Linked DNA regions of Homo sapiens. The protein of the gene in region 1 interacts with the protein of each later gene in a pairwise test. Each region holds a gene or a part of one and is shown in the gene's direction. Other genes may lie near its edges.

The links. Proteins that work in one complex are often made in the same cells at the same time.
Region 2: the proteins of EBP (region 1) and SLC48A1 interact in binary tests that used the Homo sapiens proteins (3 or more experiments, as listed by UniProt).

What each region holds. Positions count from the first base shown.
Region 1 is NC_000023.11:48,524,808-48,527,011, forward strand, and holds part of EBP (3-beta-hydroxysteroid-Delta(8),Delta(7)-isomerase), read left to right. Parts: intron 1-2,181; coding exon 2,182-2,204. UniProt on the Homo sapiens protein: Isomerase that catalyzes the conversion of Delta(8)-sterols to their corresponding Delta(7)-isomers a catalytic step in the postlanosterol biosynthesis of cholesterol.
Region 2 is NC_000012.12:47,776,238-47,779,737, forward strand, and holds part of SLC48A1 (heme transporter HRG1), read left to right. Parts: intron 1-2,790; coding exon 2,791-2,958; intron 2,959-3,500. UniProt on the Homo sapiens protein: Heme transporter that regulates intracellular heme availability through the endosomal or lysosomal compartment. In macrophages of the reticuloendothelial system, is the heme transporter for heme-iron recycling.

The sequences.
Region 1 (2,204 bases):
CCTCCCCAGTAGCTGGGACTATACTATAGGTGCACACCTTTATGCCTGGCTAATATTTTCACTTTTTTGTAGAGACAAGGTCTTGCTATGTTGCTCAGGCTGTTCTTTAACTCCTGGGCTCAAGCAATCCTTCCACCTCAGCCTCCCAAAATTCTGGGATGACAGGTGCGCACCACCGTGCCCAGCCTTATTTAACTTTTTTGTTGCATGTATATTCACGTGGGTCAAAAAACCATTTAAAGAGATTTGCAGTGAAAATCTGCTTTCTATCCACTAAGTTTCCCCAAACGCTGTTAGGCACTGTTGATAGTTGTTTATGTTTCTTTTCAGTTTATTTACACACGTAAGTCTCAATTTGCTCAATTGTAAAAGGAGGATAATAGTAATAACCAACTATATGTAAGATACTTAGAACAGTGTTTGGCAAACAGTGGTTGCCATGTAACTGTTCACTATTATTATCATTATTTGCACTTTTCCCTTTTTACACAAATGGTAATATGCTATATATACTTCTAATCTTTTCTCTTTTTCTTTCTTTCCTTACAAGAAAACCAAAGAAGCCATTTTCTTTTTTGAGACGGGGTCTCGCTCTGTCACCCAGGCTAGAGTGCAGTGGCATGATTATAGCTCACTGCAACCTTGAACTCCTGGGCAATCAAGCAATCCTCCTGCCTCAGCCTCCCTAGTAGCTGGGATTATAGGCATGTGCCACCCCACCAAGTTATTTTTTTTTTAACAACTTTTTTTTTTAAGAGATGGCGTCTTGCTTTGTTGCCCAGGCTGTTCTCCAACTCCTGGCTTCAAGTGATCTGCCCACCTCAGCCTCCCAAAGTGCTAGGATTACAAGCATGAGCCACCGCACCCAGCTGCTTTTTTTAATGAGGTCACTCCTCATGATTTCATAAAGAGCTTTCAAAGCATGGACATTGTACAGTTGCTTGACTTGTGTAGTATTGATGGGCATTTTCCCTCAATCTTCTGCCATTATAAACAAGGCCGGGCAGAGTGGCTCATGCCTGTAATCCCAGCACTTTGTGAGGCGAAGGCGGGCAGATCACCTGAGGTCAGGAGTTTGAGACCAGTCTGGCCAACATAGTGAAACCCCGTCTCTACTAAAAGTCTAAAAATTAGCTGGGCGTGGTGGCAGGTGCCTGTAATCCCAGCTACTCAGGAGGCTGAGGCAGGAGAATCTCTGGGACCTGGGAGGCGGAGGTTGTGGTGAGCTGAGATTGCGCCACTGCACACTCCAGCCTGAGCGATAAGAGCAAGGCTCCGTCTCAAAAAAAAAAAAAAAAAAAAAAAACATTACAGGCATGAGCCATTGTGCCCGGCTGGTCAGATGTTTCTTAAATTTTAGTCATTCCAGTAGATGTGAGTGATATCTCATTATGGTTTTAATTTGCTTTTCCTTAGTGACTAATGGAAGTTTGAACATCTTTCATATACTTATTGGCCATTTAGAAATCCTCTTTGTGAAGAACCTATTCAAGTCTTCTGCCTATTTTATATTGGATGATCTTTTTCTTTCTTTCTTTTTTTTTTTTTTTTTTGAGACAGGGTCTTACCCTGTTGTCCAGGCTGAGCACTGTGGTGCTATCATAGCTCACTGCAGCCTCAACCTCCTGGGCTCAAGACATCCTCCCACTGCAGCCTGGGACTGTAGGCACGTGCCACCACGTCCAGCTAATTTTTGTATGTTTTATAGAGTTGGGGGTCTCACTATATTGTTCAGACTGGTCTTGAACTCCTTTATGCAAGCCATCATCCCACCTCAGCCTCCCAAAGTGTTGGGATTACAGGCATGAGCCATCGTGCCCGGCGGTCTTTTTCTTTCTGATTCTCTGCTCACTCTTGTATTCACTCATCTGTTCACCTACATTCTCTCTCTCTCATTGGCTACTTCACTCACTCCATCATCTACACCTGCTTCCTTTTATACCACACACACTTCTTGAGTACCAATCACAGCCACACTGTTTTGTGTCAGGCTTTACACATATTACCTTGTTTTAGAGAAATAAACCACTAGAATCCAAACAGTTACCCCATTTCACGGATGAGGAAGCAGACGCATGGGAAGGTTATGAAGTCTGTCTTCTTGCAGGGACCCCCAGCTCTCACAAGTGTGTGTTCCTTTCACTGCCTTTATTCTTCATATCTCTCTCTTCTTTTCTTCAGGGAAAGAGTATGCCAAGGGAGAC
Region 2 (3,500 bases), on another chromosome or scaffold:
ACCCTTAGCTTATCGGCTGTGAGCCAATAAGCTCACATGGCTAAGCAGGGGCTCTGCTCCTTGAAACAGGTAGGATGGAGCAACGGTGTGGTCTGGTGTGGGCTTGCAGCCAGGTGGGATTGGGGACCTGTCCATTCCACCCCGAGTTTTATAAACCAGGCTTCCTAGAGTCCCCAAGTGTGCCAGGGAAGGGTATTAGGGAGATACATTGCCTCCTGCCTGATGTGTGGGAGGGGACCAGTGAGGGGCTCCATCTCCTTCAGTGACCCCCTTGGGTAGGGCTGGTGGAGAGCTCCCTTCCCAGGAGGGTGGTGGGAGCCAGGGCGTGGGCAGCAGGCCTGCCTCCACACTTGATGTGTGTTTATCTGGAGGGGAGGCCTCTGTGCAGGGCCTGGAGCAAGGTTGAGGGAAGGTGAGAGGTGGGTAAACCATGCCTGTTGTTAACAAAGAACAGGGCCCAAAACGCCCCCAAATGGCTGTCTTCCTCTCCCTCCTGCCCTCAGCCCTCTTTGGTATGTGCATGTACATGGGGGTGGGAGTTTTGGGGAACCACTGGATCGTGGCCAGTGGACTAAGAGATGGCATCTTCACAGGCCCCTATTTCAGCATTTCCTAACCCAGAAACTGCTGAGTCACAGAGGAATTGTTCTGACCTTATTTTTCTCCCAAGCTGGCTTCTAGAATCTTTGAGTGGGAAAGGATCTTAGAGCTCAACTTCCCCAACCCCTCTGTGGCACGAGGAGACAGAGGGCGAGGGGACCTGTTCCAGACAGGTGCCCATCAGACTGCTCCTTGAGTGTGCTCAGTGACAACACCCCTTGTTCCCAGGGCCCTTTATAAACCAAACAGCTCCCTCAAATGAAAACATGGGACACATGTGAGGAGTGGGAGGGACTTCTGTGAAAGGTGGCTGGTATAAAAATCCAGATCTTGTAGGAGGTAAGAGGAAGCTGCAGGATGATTGTCCTGTCCACCTCTGGCCCACTCCAGCATCCAGACTAGGTGGGGAGGAACAGATGCTTGTCCTGGCCCACCCTGATCTCAGTAGGAGGGGGACCCACATTCCAGGCCCCCACCCCCTGAGGAAGAGTGGAGGTGGGCAGGGGCAAAGCTGGGAGAGTGTTCAGGGGGTCAAACGGTGGCAGGGGCTGAGGGAAGCTGTAGGCTTGGTAGGCCTTCACCCTCACTAGGGTAGAACCCTGGGCCCAGTTACCTAAACTGGCAGGACCCCTGGGCCCACCCATTTTTAGATGTGGAAACACCAAGGCTTTGGGACACAGCAGTGCCAGGCTCCTGGTTTCTTGGCTTGGAGTCTCATGGGTTTTTGTTCCTCACTGGACTGTCTGGGGACAGCCAAACTGGGACAGCCTCTGAGCTGGTAACCAGAGCATAGCTCCACAGTGACAAGCTTCCTCCTGCCTTTTTCCCCCTTAAACAAATTATGAAATATTTTAGGCACACAAAAAAGGATAGATGATTTAACAAACACCCTTATAACCCAGCCTGAGAAAACAGCGTAGATAAAATAGCATAGATTTCCCACCCAGCCTAAGAAACAAAATAGCATAGATTCCCATAGATTCAAAGCACTTCCCCACCCCCACCGCCCCATCAACTTCCCTTCCTTGTCTCCATTGCCAGAGATAACCACTTTCCCCAACCAGATGCTTATCCTTCCTGTGCACATTTGGTAACTACTCTGAGTGGCATGTGTGCAGCTGCCTTTTGGAAAGGCCTCCTGACTCCTAGGATGCAGCGGCCTGAGTGGCCCACACCTTGCAACCCAACCAGCTGAGAGCCTGCAGCTGGCTCTGCCTCCTTCCTCATTTGTCCCTTGCCGGGATCCACCGCCCTGCCCGGACCCTTGCCAATGGAGTTGATATTTGTTCCACTCTTTGGGCTGCACCAGCAGGCACTGCCTGGCACAGAGGGTTGTTTTGTATTGTATTGGCTGGGTGGCAGCTGGCATCCTAGAGGAAGTGTCCACCCAGGCGCAGAGGCCAGGCCCAGGAAAAGCTGGGGGCAGTGGGGGTGGGGAGCGGTGCAGGTGGTGATGGCCTGCCCTTTGCCGCAAAATGGAGGGAGTGGCATGAGGTCTGGCCAAGAACAATAAGGCCACTCAGGGGTTGGGTGGCCCTGGAGTCTTCATGGCTGGACCTCCTCATCCTGCAAAACCAACTCAGGCAGTTTGGGAAGAGCCCTGCAGGCCTTGTGACTTTGAGACTGTGGCCTCTGAGGGCTGGGTGGAGGAGGAGCATGGGGCAGGAGCATGGCTTCCCTGCTCTGTGGCCCTCAGGGTAGACAGTGGCAAGTCCCCAGAAAGCAGGCTGGGCTGCTGAGGCACAGACTTTCTGGTTTTCAGGATCCTTTTATCCTCTTGAAAAGTAGTGAAACTCCATGCAAATTTTATGTATGTGAGTTTTAGCTATTGATATATACTATATTAGAAGTTAGAACATTTTTTAGCATTTTAAAGTAATACTAAAAATAACATGAATTAACATAACATTTTTGTGAGAGATATTCATGTTTTCCAAAACAAAATAAAATCAGAGAGAATGGTAGGGTTTTGTATTTCTGCAGGTTTCTCTAATGTTGGGCTTACTAGCAGGCAGCTCAGTCTCTTACCTGCTTCTGATATCACAGCCTCCGAAAAGGAAAACTCCATTCTATGAGGGAATGAGAGACAAGACCATATTCTTGGTATTCTTATGCAAATAGGCCTGGTCTAGTGGATCTGCAGGGCTCTGGAGCACCCTGGGGATGGGCCCTGATGTGTCTCTCCTGCAGGGGTGCTGGCACTGTGGGTCCTGGTGACGCACGTGATGTACATGCAAGATTATTGGAGGACCTGGCTCAAGGGGCTGCGCGGCTTCTTCTTCGTGGGCGTCCTCTTCTCGGCCGTCTCCATCGCTGCCTTCTGCACCTTCCTCGTGCTGGCCATCACCCGGCATCAGAGTGAGGGCGGGTCCCAGGGAAAGAGGGCATGGGAGGGACAGCAGCGGGGATTTTAGCAGCATTCCCATCCTGGTTCCACAGGTTACCTCCAAAGAGACTGGGTGAATTACTTAACCTCCCCGGACACGGGTTTTGTTATGGTTCATGTGGAGAAAACAAGTCCCCACCTCGCAAGTTGGGTGGATTCTATGAAACTGATGTGAAGTCTTGAGCAGTGCATAGCCCATACAAGCACTCCTGATATTGGGACCCATTAGTCTGTGCTCAGCTCTGGGATGGGAGCGCCCTCTGGTGGCTGTGGCTGGAAATAACCAGAGGTCCTTCTTCCGGGAGTCTGATGCTAACTAAAGCAGGTTGGAGGTGGCCTAGGGTATTTGTCACAAAAGCGGAGTGGATGATACAGACCTGTGATTGGCCAGCCCTGCCCTTCCCTAATCCCCACGGCCTCCTGCCTGAAAACCCTGGAATACTCTAAAACGGTCCCCAGCTCCGTTCTACTGTTCCAGGCTGTGGAACAGTAGTGGTCCGTGGCCTGTTAGGAA